Linked DNA regions of Homo sapiens. The protein of the gene in region 1 interacts with the protein of each later gene in a biochemical or structural test. Each region holds a gene or a part of one and is shown in the gene's direction. Other genes may lie near its edges.

Region 1 (3,500 bases):
AACCTTAGTTTTCTCCCTAGTCTAGCAACCAGAACTCGCTTTGCCTAAAATGGATGTGGTCAGAATGTGGGGGCGTTGGGGGTGGGGGGGTCAAGCAGAAGGGCTCTCTGCTTAGACAGTAGAAGGCCCCCTTCCCTGAACCTGTGGAAATGGCCTGCGGGGGAAGCTGAAGTATTCGAATCAGATCGTTGTTCCGGTTTTAGGAAATCCCCAGGAAGCATCAGCCGAGTGTGCCCAAAGCCGAGGAGCCCCTCAAGACCGTGCAGGAGAAGAAAAAGTTCCGGCACCGGCCGGAACCTCTCTTCATCCCGCCGCCGCCCTCCTACAACCCGAACCCCGCTGCCTCCTACTCGGGCGCCACCCTGTACCAGAGCCAGCTGCGCTCCCCGCGCGTCCTCGGGGACCACCTGCTCCTGGACCCCACCCACGAGCTGCCCCCTTACACGCCCCCACCCATGCTGAGCCCGGTGCGCCAGGGCTCGGGGCTCTTCAGCAATGTCCTCATCTCCGGCCACGGCCCTGGCGCCCACCCGCAGCTGCCCCTGACGCCCCTGACGCCCACACCACGGGTGCTGCTGTGTCGCTCCAGTGAGTCACCCCTTTAGCGTCCTCCTGGGCTCTGGGTGCTGGGTAAAGTCCTGGGACATCTCGTTTTCTTTAGCTTTCTCATTTATCCCACAGACTTTTGCGGAGTATTGGCTGTATGTAGCACGCGCTGCTGGGTGTTAAGAAAGACTTGGAATACATAGCCCTTATCCTCAAGGGAATCGCAGTCTAATTGGGAGACAGATGCATAAAGTGATCACTACAGTCTCTGGGATAAGGAAACAGTTGAAATGTTCACCCACTTTTTAAGGCTGCCAGCAATGATCGTGCAAGAGAGAAAAAATGAGACCGGGCGCGGTGGCTCACACCTGTAATCCCAGCGTTTTCGGAGGTCGAGGCGGGTGGATCACTTGAGGCCGGGAGTTGGACACCAGCCTGGCCAACATGGTGAAACCCCGTCTCTACTAAAAATACAAAAATTAGCCGGGCATGGTGGCACGCACCTGTAATCCCAGCTACTTGGGAAGCTGAGGCAGGAGAATCGCTTAAACCTGGGAGGCAGAGGTTGCAGTGAGCCAAGATCATGCCACTGCACTCTAGCCTGGGGGATGAGAGTGAAACTCCGTCTCAAAAAAAAAAATAACGGGATGTGGTAGCAGGCACCTGTAGTTCCAGCTACTCAGGAGACTGAGGCAGGAGAATCTCTTGAACCCGGGAAGCGGAGGCTGCAGTGAGCCGACATCGCGCCACAGCACTCCCGCCTGGGCGAAGGAGCGAGACTCCGTCTCAAAAAAAAGAAAATGTACTCAGTAGATGTACAAATAAGATTAGGTATTACATGCAAGATCAAGCCTTGACATTTTAGCATGCTTTATAAAAATCAAGCATAGAGAGGCTAGGATCTCTTTCTGGAGCAAGAATAATTGCATAGAAATCATACCGCTTAGCAGACCATTGTGGGACAGCTGGCTTCTCCTCACCCTGTGTGAGAAATGGGTAACCCTAAGTTATTTTGCACCATACTCCACCCAGCTCCCTGGAAACTGTCAAGGATAACTCTGGCAGGAGCTGGGTAGGAGAGAAGCTCTATTATGGCTGGTTAGGTAACTGCTCATTTGCTTTAGTCTTTTTCAACATTCCTTCCCTGTTGACTAGTGACCTCTGATTTTTGTGTTTTAGACAGCATCGATGGCAGCAACGTGACGGTCACCCCAGGGCCTGGAGAGCAGACTGTAGATGTTGAACCGTAAGGAAAAGTCAATTACTCTTTAGAACAGAAGCCTCAGCTTCTTGAGAAGTATAGTTAATACTTTTGTAGTCAGAGGATTACACTGAGAGAGCAGTTGTAGAAATTGTAGGATCGTGGTTATTTCTTGAGTACTGTTGTTTCCCTGCACAATGGTTGCCAGTATTTCAAGGCCTTTGCCAAAGACTAAATACATGGTCAAAGCATGAAGCCCTGTATTCAGAGAGCCTAGCGTCCCTGCGTCTGGCTCCACAGGCAGTGCTTTCTCATCCCCAGTGACACAGGCATCTCCCTCCGGGTGGCTCATTCTTTAAGAGGCTCCTTCTGAATGTCTTCACTTCCCTCCTCCCCAATTCTTGGCCAGTCCTCCAAATGGGCTTGTTAAGTACTTTAATTTTGCATAGGCAGTGGGTGGTATTAGGAGAGGCAAAGGTGGTTATTTTCATGGATAGGCACAGAAAAGAGGCCAGGTGGTAGAGTGGTGAGTAGATTGAGTCAGGAATCAAAAAACCTAAGTTCCAACACCATTTTGTAATTTGATCTTGATCCAGTTAACCTTTGTAGGGTTTAGTTGACTCGTCAAATGGGAGTAATTATTCCAGCCTTGCTTACATCACAGATCTCTGTGAGGTTCGGATGGGATAATATCTGTGAAAGTGATCTGAAAGAGATAAAAAAATGAATGCTTTGTATTTGTCCCCTTTTTTGTGTTGTTAAATGGCACCATTGGCCATGCTCTGGGAAACTGTTATGTTGGAAATAATCACCCTCCCTCTCCCAGTTACAGGGAGCTGTAAAAGCCCCAGGCCGACTGCCCCCTTGCTCCTAAAATATTTCTCCCTAATCTTAAAGCTGTTCCTTATCCCAGTGAAAAGGCCACGTGTGGAATCTTAGGGTCACACTGTGAGGAAATGCCCCTGCATTCTTGCAGAAAGAACTAGTTTCCTTCTTTTTCAAGTTCCTGACAGTTGCCCTTGGCCTGAGCCATCAAATTGAAGACCACATTGTTGTTTTTCTTCTTGTCATTTAAAGACGCATCAACATTGGCTTGAGATTCCAAGCAGAAATCCCTGAACTCCAAGATATCTCTGCCCTGGCCCAGGACACACACAAGGCCACACTGGTATGGAAGCCCTGGCCAGAACTAGAAAACCATGACCTCCAGCAAAGAGGTATTGGCATATGGGAAGAGCTGGGTGGGAGAGGTTTGATTCTCTCACTGAGATCACTGGCTCTGGGATTGGTGTGTTTTCCATTACACTCAGCTCTCTCTGATGCATTGGCTTCTCCTTATTCCCAACAGTGGAGAATCTTCTGAATTTGTGCTGTTCCAGTGCATTGCCAGGTGGAGGGACCAATTCTGAATTTGCTTTGCACTCTCTGTTTGAGGCCAAAGGTGATGTGATGGTAAGGAACCATGAAAAAGAGGCTTTACAAATTCCTGAAGAGTATTTTCCCAAGTTTCAATATTGTCTCATGTACCATACAACCAATTTGTAATGACCAATCGGCGCATGATGACCAATCAGCACGCCTCCCTATTCCTTCTCTCGGTGGGTAGGTCAGGATGTTAAAGTCTGTAGAAAAAAATCTCCAATTGGATTTCTGTTTCCACATCTGTTCCTAAAGTTAGAACTGTGGGTACATCTGTCCTAGGACATTAGAATTTCTTTTCCACATCTTGCACTTCACATCAGAAAACTGAGTC
Region 2 (3,500 bases), on another chromosome or scaffold:
AAGGCCAAGGCAGGCAGATCACAAGGTCAGGAGATTGAGACCATCCTGGCCAACATGGTGAAACCCCATCTCTACTAAAAATACAAAAATTAGCTGGGTGTGGTGGCATGTGCCTGTAATCCCAGCTACTAGGGAGGCTGAGGCAGGAGAATGGCTTGAACCTGGGAGGCGGGGATTGCAGTGAGCCAGGATAGCACCACTGCACTCCAGCCTGGTAACAGAGCAAGACTCTGTCTCAAAACAAACAAACGAATGAACAAAACACTTCATCATATCTTGTGAGACATATTCACTGTCATGCAAACAGCAGGGGAAAGACCCACCCCCGTGATCCCATGATTCAGTTATCTCACTGATTCTCTCTTACAACACATGGGAATTATGGGAGCTACAAGGTGAGATTTGGGTGAGGACACAGAGCCAAACCATATCATTCTGCCCCTAGCCCCTCCCAAATCTCATGTCTTCACATTTCAAAACCAATCATGCCTTCTCAACAGTCCCCAAAGTCTTAACTTATTTCAGCATTAACTCAAAAGTCCACAGTCCAAAGTCTCATCTGGGACAAGGGAAGTCCCTTCCGCCTATGAGCCTGTAAAATTAAAAGCAACTTAGTTACTTCCTACATACACTCAGGGATACAGGCATTGGGTAAATACAGCCATTCAAGATGGGAGAAATTGGCCAAAACAAAGGAGCTACAGGCCCCATGCAAGTTTGAAATCCAGCAGGGCAGTCAAATCTTCAAGTTCCAAAATGATCTCTTTTGACTCCATGTCTCATATGCAAGTCACCCTGATGTAAGAGGTGGCCTCCCATGGCCTTGGGCAACACTGCCCTTGGGGCTTTGCAGGGTATAGCCCCCCACCGGCTGCTTTCATGGGCTGGCGTTGAGTGTCTATGGCTTTTCCAGTCTCATGCTGCAAGCTGTTGGTGGATCTACCATTCTGGGGTCTAGAGGACGGTTGCCCTCTTCTCACAGCTCCACTAGGCAGTGCCCCAGTAGGGACTCTGTATGGGCCTCCAACTTCACATTTCCCCTCCACACTGACCTAGCAGAGGTTCTCTGTGAGTGCCCTGCCCCTGCAAGCAGACTTTTGCCTGGGCATCTAGGCATTTCCATACGTCTTCTGAAATCTAGAGGGAGGTTCCCAAGCCTCAATTTTTGCCTTCTGTGCACCCTCAGGCTCAACAGCACGTGGAAGCTGCCAACTCCTGGGGCTTCCACCTTCTGAAGCAACAACCCGGGCTGTACCTTGGCCACTTTTAGTCATGCTGGAGCAGCTAGGAAACAGGGCACCAAGTCCCTAGAGTGCACACAGCGTGGGGACCCTGGGCCCGGCCCATGAAACCATTTTTAGCTCCTAGGCCTGCCTACAGGCTTGTGATAGGAGGGGCTTCCATGAAGACCTCTGACGTGCCCTGTAGACATTTTCCACATTGTCTTGGGGATTAACATTCGGGTCCTCATTACTTATGCAAATTTCTGTAGCCAGCTTGAATTTCTCCTCAGAAAATGAGATTTTCTTGTCTATTGCATTGTTGGGCTGCAAATTTTCCAAACTTTTATGCTCTGCTTCCCTTACAAAACTGAATGCCTTTAACAGCACGCAAGTCTCCTCTTGAATGCTTTGCTACGTAGAAATTTATTCCACCAGATACCCTAAATCATCTCTCTCAAGTACAATCGTCTCTCTCAAGTACAAATCCACCAGTCTCTAGCACAGGGGCAAAATGCTGCCAGTCTCTTTGCTAAAACATACAAAGAGTCACCTTTGCTGCATTTCCCAAAAAGTTTCTCATTTCCATCTGAGAACACCTCAGCCTGGACTTTATTGTCCATATTGCTGTCAGCATTTTGGTCAAAGCCATTCAACAAGTCTATAGGAAGTTCCAAACTTTCCCACATTTTCCTGTCTTCTTCTGAGCCCTCCAAACTGTTCCAACGTCTGCCTGTTACCCAGTTCTAAAGTTGCATCCACATTTTCAGTTATCTTCAGCAGCACCCCACTCCTGGTAACAATTTACTGTTTTCACACTGCTGCTAAGACATACTTGAGAGTGGACAATTTACAAAAGAAAGAGGTTTAATGGACTTACAGTTCCACATGGCTGGGGAGGCCTCACAATCATGGTGGAAGGCAAGGAGGAGCAAGGCATGTCTTACATGAATGGCAGCCGGCAAAGAGAGAGCTTGTGCTGGGAAACTCCCATTTTAAAACCATCAGATCTTGTGAGACTTATTCACTATAATGAGAACAACATGAGAAAGGCCCGCCCCCATGATTCAGTTATCTCCCACTGGTTCTCTCCCATAACACATAGGAATTATGGGAGCTACAAGATGTGATTTGGGTGGGGACACAGAGCCAAACTATATCATAAGGTTGGGTAAAATTTATAACTAAAATGATGTTTTATAGTATATCCTTTCTGATTATTTCCATTGGTTCATGCTACTAGTCTCAAGAGCTAATAGTTCATTCATACCTTCTCAATAGCAATTCTTTCCAGCCAGGGTTAAATTTTGCATATTTACTTCTTAAGTTCCAGGTTCTGCATTTCTTGCCTGGTTTTTCCCTCCATAATTGAAAGTATACTATTTAACACAGTGAGCTGTCATTATTTCTTGGACAACAATCTATCCTTTTAAAAGTTTATTTTGAAATCTGCTTTTAAAATGTAGTCAATTCGTTTTTGTCAATTCTCCAGTTTTTTTGTTATGATATGTCTAGATTTTCTTATGACATATATAGCATTCCAGAGAGGTAATGTTTCGAGATTCCAAGAGATGTACTACGTTTCTCAATAGTTTTGTTGCTGGTAAGATAACATTTTAAGATAATGGGCAGCTAAAAAGGTTTTTAGTATCTACTTCAATAATGGCTTGCTTAAAATTTCAGAGTTTGGGGGGTTTTTAGTATTATTTTAAGAAGTATAATTTCCTTAGAATAAAATGCACTGATCTTAAGTGTAGAAGTTGAAATTTGACAAATATATATATCAGCCCAAATGTGAGCATTTTATGGAGAGAAGTTGTGCTAGATCACTCATTTAATTACCAATTCTGTAAACACTGTTCCATATAGCATCATGTCCATGTAAATATGACCCAAATTGTGGAACTTTTTTTTCTATTCTGGACCCCATAAGGGGCCAATGCACACCTCCCTTCTCCCAGCCCCAGAGGTAGGTAACCATTTCTGTTTAGTTCTATTTCTATAACTGTTTCTGATCTTAAACTTCCTAAAATGAAATCATAGAGTATGTACTCTTATATCTAGCTTTTAGTGTCTGATTTTTTCTTTTATTTGGTGTTTGTGAGATTCAGCCATATTGTTTATATCAGTATTTTATTCCTTTTTATTGCTGAGAAATATTCCATGCTGTGTATATCTCAAAATTTGTTTATCCATTCTCTTGGTGATAAATGTTTTGGTTGTTTCTCAGTCTGGGGCTTTTATGAGTAAAGCTGCTATAAACATTCTTGTGATATCTTT
Region 3 (3,500 bases), on another chromosome or scaffold:
GAGGCTGTTCCTTGAAGTTCCTTTATCTGCCTAGAAACCAGACCCACCAAAAGGAATACAATTGCCTTTGATCCCCTCCTCAAAATTTCATTAACCAGAGAAGCCTGAAACTTGTATGACAGAGGAAAAGACTAAAAATTAAATATCACACCTAGAGAGCTCAGAGGAACTTTGCCCAGACTATTGTCTGTTCTCAGATCCCATTCAGTTTCCAAAGAGAATTATTTACTAACCATTGTCTGTGTACTGGGCCCATTCATTCTTCCTAAAAATCATTTACTGCCCTTCAAAATGGCGTCATTTCCCTCATGTCCCCTTCCCCTGTGAAGAAGGGTATTATATAGTATCTGGAACTCACTTGGTTATTGGGTAATAATTGTCTTGCAATTTCCCCCATGCTTATGCACCTTAAATAAATTTGTTTGCCATTTTCTCCTGTTAATTTGTCTATTATCAGTTCATTTTCAGCGAACCTTTAGAGGGTAGAGGGGAAGTTTTCCTTTTGGCCCCTATAAAGTGATCTTGAAAGAAATGTTTCTTTATCTGACATAAAAAAGGATGGAGAAAGGAAGCATTATTGTACCTCTGACTTTCTAACAAATTACCATAAAGGAAGAATATTTTTCGTCTACTATTGTTAGAACACCTTAGAACCATCAAAAATATAATTACATGGCTAATAGAAAAAAAAAGAGCAGTTTTAAAATATGTTTTATGTAACCTATTTTCATTGTTTTTCATTTTGTTGTTGCCGAGTAGTAGTTGTTCTAAGTAAATACAGGTCTCAATTTCACTATGAATAAAAACTGTCAAAATCAAGAAACTAAAAAAAAAGTTCTTTAATTACTAATGTCAAAACCATACTGTTTTTAAGATAATTTGTAAAGTCTAGAAATGGGGCCATTCGCCATTTTGTTTTATGCCATAGATCATCCTGGGGTTTTTTGGTGGGCAAATGCTGCTATTTGTAAAACTCTTCCTTCCAAAGATTTTCCTAAATCTTTATTCTCAAACTTACTCTGGGTGATGGGTCCTGGACAGAATAGCTTCACTTCCTTTAAAGGTAACTTCTTTGTTTCATCTTTACTGCCTACTGTGTCGTCTTTTCTTATGTTGAAGTTGACAGACCTGCTCTATTCTCATACTAATAGACTATTTTTAGATTTTTTTAAAGTAATCACAATAAATTCAGTATATCTTAAGTCTTTTGGCTTCCTGTGAACTTCTTCCCTTGACAGTTTATCTTAGCACTGAAACATCAAATATATTGTATCTGCTTTATCTAATACTCAGAAACAAAGAACCTACGTGACCAATATCAAATTTTATTTTTTAGTTCTGACTCCTAAAGTCTTGCTGTCCTATCCTCAATGCTGTTAAAAACTTCTGAGGTTCCAGTTTTGTTATGTGGTGACTCCATTGGCTCCTGTCTTCGTCAGTCTGCTTCTTCTTGGGTAGCTTGGGAATTCTGTGCTATGGTGATATGTCTGGATACAATTTGTAAGTCAGCCTACACAGCCAGACCATGTGGCTTAAAGTAATTTTTATCCGTCTTATTTTTTACTCTTAGGCAATGCGGAATATCAATCCCAGCACAGCAAATTCTCCAAAATGTCAGGTAGGCTCTTATCTGATGTTTTAGCACTGGAAAAAAAAAAAAAAAGATATTAAATTAGGAAAGAGAAACTTACATTCCAGGGTCCTGTCCTTATTGGACATTAGCCCAGAGAATAACTTTGAGCCATCTTTCTACCAAGATACTCAGGTTAACATTGCCCTTCCAAGAAAGTCTACACAGTCTGCTCCCTCCCTGCTCCTCCTAGGGAGTTTCTGTTTATTTTGATTCCATGGAGGTCTTTTTTATTCTATATTTAAATGTATTGTGTCTCAGTTGTACATCCTATCAGCTAGGTATGCCTAATTTTTATTTGAATAGCTTAAAATAGTATGTGTAATGATTTAAAGGAATTAATAAATTGAACAGTAACAAAAGCAGTATTTACTTGGATAGGCTACTTTAGGAAATTTTAGAGTCATGATACTATGAGGAAGAGAAAAATTCTTTCTAGTGGACATTCCAAAGGAAAAATATCAAAATTATCAGGAGAGTATCTGCCTGGATAGTGTTTCAGGTTTTCTTGTTGGCTTTTATCAGCATTCTCTGATGAACCCCAGGGAGCCCTGGTTGTGAAGGCATCTTATTTAGAAGGAAAGATTGTGGCCAATTTTTCTTCTAACACAGGCACTTGTCTGACTCGTGGGAAGAATCTCGTTCTTAAAACCAAAAAGATTTTAGGTGTTTGAGGTCCACAAGATTAGAAGAAATTCGGAGCCAGAGGATCATTCTACTTCTCTTGGGGCAGAAGCAACCATATAATGCCTCACCTTCTATGTAACTTACTCTGCACTATGCTAAATAAGTACATTGTTTTAGAATCTGCTGTAGAAGTAGGAGTTGGCAAAATTCTACTCATTTTGGATACTGTTAAGTTGTCCGTTGGAGCACCATGATGATAAAAGTCAGATACAGTCTTCATAGAAACCAGTTAATTTTGTGAGAGGGAAAATCTCTATTCTTCTTTATCTATCTCATAAATGCCACCATTAATCAAAAGACCAAGCAAGGGATAACTCAATAATAAGCCATCTTCACCAAAGTTGAGCATAGACATTCTTATGATGAGGGGGCACTAATATACCATTTGACTGTGAAGTGCAGGATAGCATTGGGTCTTTATAACGTGAAGCCATTTTTTTCTTTGCCATTTCTCTGAAGTGTTTGTTTTGTTTTGTCTTTTTGTTTTTGTTTTTTGTTTTTGTTTTTGAGATGGAGTTTCGCTCTGTTGCCGAGGCTGGAGTGCAGTGGTGTGATCTCGGCTCACTGCAAGCTCCGCCTTCCGGGTTCACACCATTCTCCTGCCTCAGCCTCCCAAGTAGCTGGGACTACAGGCGCCCGCCACCATGCCCAGCTAATTCTTTTTGAATTTTTTAGTAGAGACGGGGTTTCACAGTGTTAGCCAGGATGGTCTCGATCTCCTGACCTCGTGATCCGCCCACCTCAGCCTCCCAAATTGCTGGGATTACAGGCGTGAGCCACCACGTCTGGCCTGAAGTGTTTCTGAAAGAAGAATTTTATTCATGATAAATGAAATAGAAACTAATATAGGAGCAGAAATTAACTCAAAGGAGATTTGGATTCAGGTAAAAAGTCCTCCATGCCAAAAAAATGTTGAAATTGTTTCCTTTTTTCCCAAGGTCTTATACCCTGAATCTGATAAATAAGTCAAATTCTTCTTGATCTTTGTTTCATACTTGAATAGAAAAGTAAATCTTTACTGTTATTAAAATTATCAGGAATTCTTAGATTTTTTAAAATAGTAAAGTTTTAGAAAAGGTGAGGCTTATTAGTAGTAAAGCTTCTAAGATACGAAGATTAGAGGTAATTACTCAGATTTGCCCAGACCAGAGCAAAAAACTTGAAAGAGGTTTTTAAAAATCTT
Region 4 (3,500 bases), on another chromosome or scaffold:
AGAAATAGGAACACTTTTACACTGTTGGTGGGACTGTAAACTAGTTCAACCATTGTGGAAGTCAGTGTGGCGATTCCTCAGGGATCTAGAACTAGAAATACCATTTGACCCAGCCATCCCATTACTGGGTATATACCCAAAGGACTATAAATCATGCTGCTATAAAGACACATGCACAGTTTTTCTTATCCTAGACAGTTTTAAGAAGGACAGGCCTTGGCCGGGCGCGGTGGCTCACGCCTGTAATCCCAGCACTTTGGGAGGCCGAGACGGGTGGATCACGAGGTCGGGAGATTGAGACTATCCTGGCTAACATGGTGAAACCCCATCTCCACTAAAAATACAAAAAAAAAAAATTAGCCGGGTGTGGTGGTGGGTGCCTGTAGTCCCAGCTACTCGGGAGGCTGAGGCCGGAGAATGGCGTGAACCTGGGAGGCAGAGCTTGCAATGAGTCAAGATCATGCCACTGCACTCCAGCCTCGGCGACGGAGCGAGACTCCGTCTCACAAAAAAAAAAAAAAAAAAAAAAAAAGCAAGGACAGGCCTTACATCCTACGATGTTTCTCATTTTGGGTCTGTTTGGGTCTGTTTAGTGTTTCTTGATGACCATGTTCAGGTCACGCTCTCTTGGCAGGAATCATAGAAATGATGCTGTGTTCTTCGCATGCATCACACCAGGGGACACATGATGCTGACTTGTCCCAACACTGTCAGTGACCTTAATCACTTGGTCACCTTGGTGTCTGCCAGGTTTCTTCTCTGTAATGTCACCTTTTTTCTCTTTATAATTGATAGTATTTTCAGGGGACATATCGTAAGATTATGCCAATATCCTATTTCTCGTCAAGTCTTCATCCTCAGTTTTAGCATCCATTGATGAATTCTATCTGAACCAAACACCACTATTTTGTTTTATTTCCATCTCTGTTAGTTGGCATTCTATGTAAGAAGAGCTTTCCTTTTCCTGTCATTTATTTATATCAGCATAGACTTGTAAAATCCCACTTTATTCAGCAGGTTGTAATCAGTTACTGTCATTAAATATTTTATTGCTCATACTGTCCCAGTTTGTCCAGTGGGAGCCCTTTCAAGGAGGTTCCTAGGTCTTCGTAACAAGTCCCCATCATTCTTTGAACACTTTCTGGCAGAAGTTGTTCCAGGCTTCTCTTGTATTTTGCTTGGCTCAGCTATCTACAATCAGCCATTTTCCCTAGAAGCACTGGTCCTATTTAGTATAAAATGGTTTTTACATGCTACAATTTGGGTACTTGGTGTGCTCATTGTTACTGGGATATACTCTTGGACCATCTCTGAACAGTTAAGCGTGTGTGTGTGTGTGTGTGTGTGTGTGTATGTGTACTCTACACACATATATAAGTATACACAAAGATCTATAGCTATTTCTATATCAATCTGTAAATACATAAATTTAAAAATCATGAATTCATACTGATTTTTTCCAATTCAAACCTAATACCTGAGTTCCTTTATAGCCATAAGTACCTTTTCTAACAGTGAAAAAATTTGACTTTTATTATCCTTAATATATTTGTTCATTGACTTATGTGTTCAGTGTAACTAACTTCCTGACCACGCAGACATCTCCTCTGCCACTTCAGCTCTTCACATCCTTGGATGCCAGTGGGAATATTGCTATTCTCTATGCAGCATCCCTGTGCAACGCCGTCCTCCCCTCCTCAGTACCCTTGCCAGTGGGCACCCTTCTGATGCATCTCTGTATGGTATCTCCCTCCTCCCCTCAGTGCCCCGTGCTGGCGAGCATGCCAACCATGCACCTCTGTGAAATTCACCCTCACTCCACAGACATTTTCTGTAGTGGCCTGTGATTGACTGCTCTGCGCCAGGAACAGAAAAGGAGAAGGAACTATAATTTCTTTTATAGGTAATTAGGAATTCATATATCACATAGGAGTAGAATCTTTGAGCTGGAAGAGACCTTGTAAATAAATCATTTAGGGTGAGCAGGGGTATAGAAAATGGGATTCTTTTGTGTTGGAATTCTGGCCCTGTCACTTACTTGGTGAATCTTGCATAATTAAACATCAGTCAGAGCAGGATATTTAAGTCTGCTGATTCTCCCATCCCCTTGCTGTCTCAGAAATATTCTATAGCATTTGGAGACATGCAGGAACCAGTTGAACACAATTGCTTCTCAATCTATCATGGTTATCTACTCCAGAGCTGAATCTTTAAGTCAGATAGCTGATTTGAATTGCTGAACCCATTGTTCTGCTGAATTCTGTGGCAATTGATGTTACTTCTTCTTTAGGACTTCTATTTCTTCTGGCCTCCTTGCCAATAGTATCAAAGTTTAAGAGGATAAATGAATGGGGAGGGGATAGGAGAAGTCTGGAGATAAATGCAGGGAGAAAGGCACAGCACAAACAAAAAGCATTTTGATAAGGCTTTTCTGAAAGTTGAGTAAATATGTCTGTAGCCCATTATTATAACTCATGGCTGGACTCAAATGTCTGGCTTCAACTGATGCGAGACATGTTGGGGCAATGAAGAGAGTAATATGAACAAACAATCATGGCCGTCAATAAAGATGCTTTAGTGAAAGTATTCTCCTTTGGGAAAAAGAGTCAACCTAAATAAATAGCAACTGCCTTTAACTGAATACCCACTCTGTGCCAGGCACCAGGTTAGATTTTTTCATACTTTAGCTGTAATCATCACAACATTATTGCAGAAGTAGGAAGTATTACCCCCATTTTAGAGATAAGGAATATGAGATTCTGATTTGTTCAAGAACCTTCTCCCAGTAGGGAGAAGTGTTATATTCATAACAAACACTTGGTCCTTCCACTTTCCTGCTACTAATACGCAAATAAAATAATTTAACAGAAGAGACTTTTTCTCAGGAATATGATGAATGTGAATGGAATGTGTGCAAAATTAACTTGTAATTGTTATGCTCTCATTTCCACATCTTCTGTCTTTTCTTGATAAAGCTTTTAGGTGGACCTCTGAAGTACTTGATTTCTGTATTTGCTTAACAAATATTTGATGAACACTATGTATCAGGCACGTGGGTCAGGGCATGAGGTATAATGATATAGAATATACTTTACCGATTTTATAGCCAAGAGGGAGAGAGAAACATTAAATAAATTATCACACATCAATATTTTATAAGTGTTATTAAGGAAAACAGTGTAAGATGAAAGTATTTATAACAGGCTGGGCGCAGTGGCTCACACCTGTAATCCCAGCACTTTCGGAGGCTGAGATGGGTGGATCACTTGAGGTCAGGAGTTCGAGACCAGCCTGGCCAACATGGTGAAACCCTGTCTCTACCAAAAATACAAAAATTAGCCAGGCATGGTAGCATATACCTGTAGTCTCAGGTACTTGAGAGGCTGAGGCAGGAAAATTGTTTGAATCGGGAGGTGGGGGTTGCAGTGAACCGAGACTGCGCCACTGCACTCCAGTCTGGGCAACAGAAGAACACTCTGTCTCAAAAAAAAAAAAAAAAG

The links. Proteins that work in one complex are often made in the same cells at the same time.
Region 2: the proteins of TRERF1 (region 1) and ITCH interact in a test that uses a peptide from one of them, tested with the Homo sapiens proteins (one large-scale study listed by BioGRID and IntAct).
Region 3: the proteins of TRERF1 (region 1) and YAP1 interact in a test that uses a peptide from one of them, tested with the Homo sapiens proteins (2 studies listed by BioGRID and IntAct, with this or other methods).
Region 4: the proteins of TRERF1 (region 1) and NEDD4 interact in a test that uses a peptide from one of them, tested with the Homo sapiens proteins (2 studies listed by BioGRID and IntAct, with this or other methods).

What each region holds. Positions count from the first base shown.
Region 1 is NC_000006.12:42,256,427-42,259,926, reverse strand, and holds part of TRERF1 (transcriptional-regulating factor 1), read left to right. Parts: intron 1-203; coding exon 204-588; intron 589-1,725; coding exon 1,726-1,792; intron 1,793-2,165; exon of another isoform or gene 2,166-2,453; intron 2,454-2,824; coding exon 2,825-2,964; intron 2,965-3,095; coding exon 3,096-3,199; intron 3,200-3,500.
Region 2 is NC_000020.11:34,481,773-34,485,272, forward strand, and holds part of ITCH (E3 ubiquitin-protein ligase Itchy homolog), read left to right. Parts: intron 1-3,500. UniProt on the Homo sapiens protein: Acts as an Acts as an E3 ubiquitin-protein ligase which accepts ubiquitin from an E2 ubiquitin-conjugating enzyme in the form of a thioester and then directly transfers the ubiquitin to targeted substrates.
Region 3 is NC_000011.10:102,207,947-102,211,446, forward strand, and holds part of YAP1 (transcriptional coactivator YAP1), read left to right. Parts: intron 1-1,570; coding exon 1,571-1,618; intron 1,619-3,500. UniProt on the Homo sapiens protein: Transcriptional regulator with dual roles as a coactivator and corepressor. Critical downstream regulatory target in the Hippo signaling pathway, crucial for organ size control and tumor suppression by restricting proliferation and promoting apoptosis.
Region 4 is NC_000015.10:55,983,613-55,987,112, reverse strand, and holds part of NEDD4 (E3 ubiquitin-protein ligase NEDD4), read left to right. Parts: intron 1-3,500. UniProt on the Homo sapiens protein: E3 ubiquitin-protein ligase which accepts ubiquitin from an E2 ubiquitin-conjugating enzyme in the form of a thioester and then directly transfers the ubiquitin to targeted substrates. Specifically ubiquitinates 'Lys-63' in target proteins.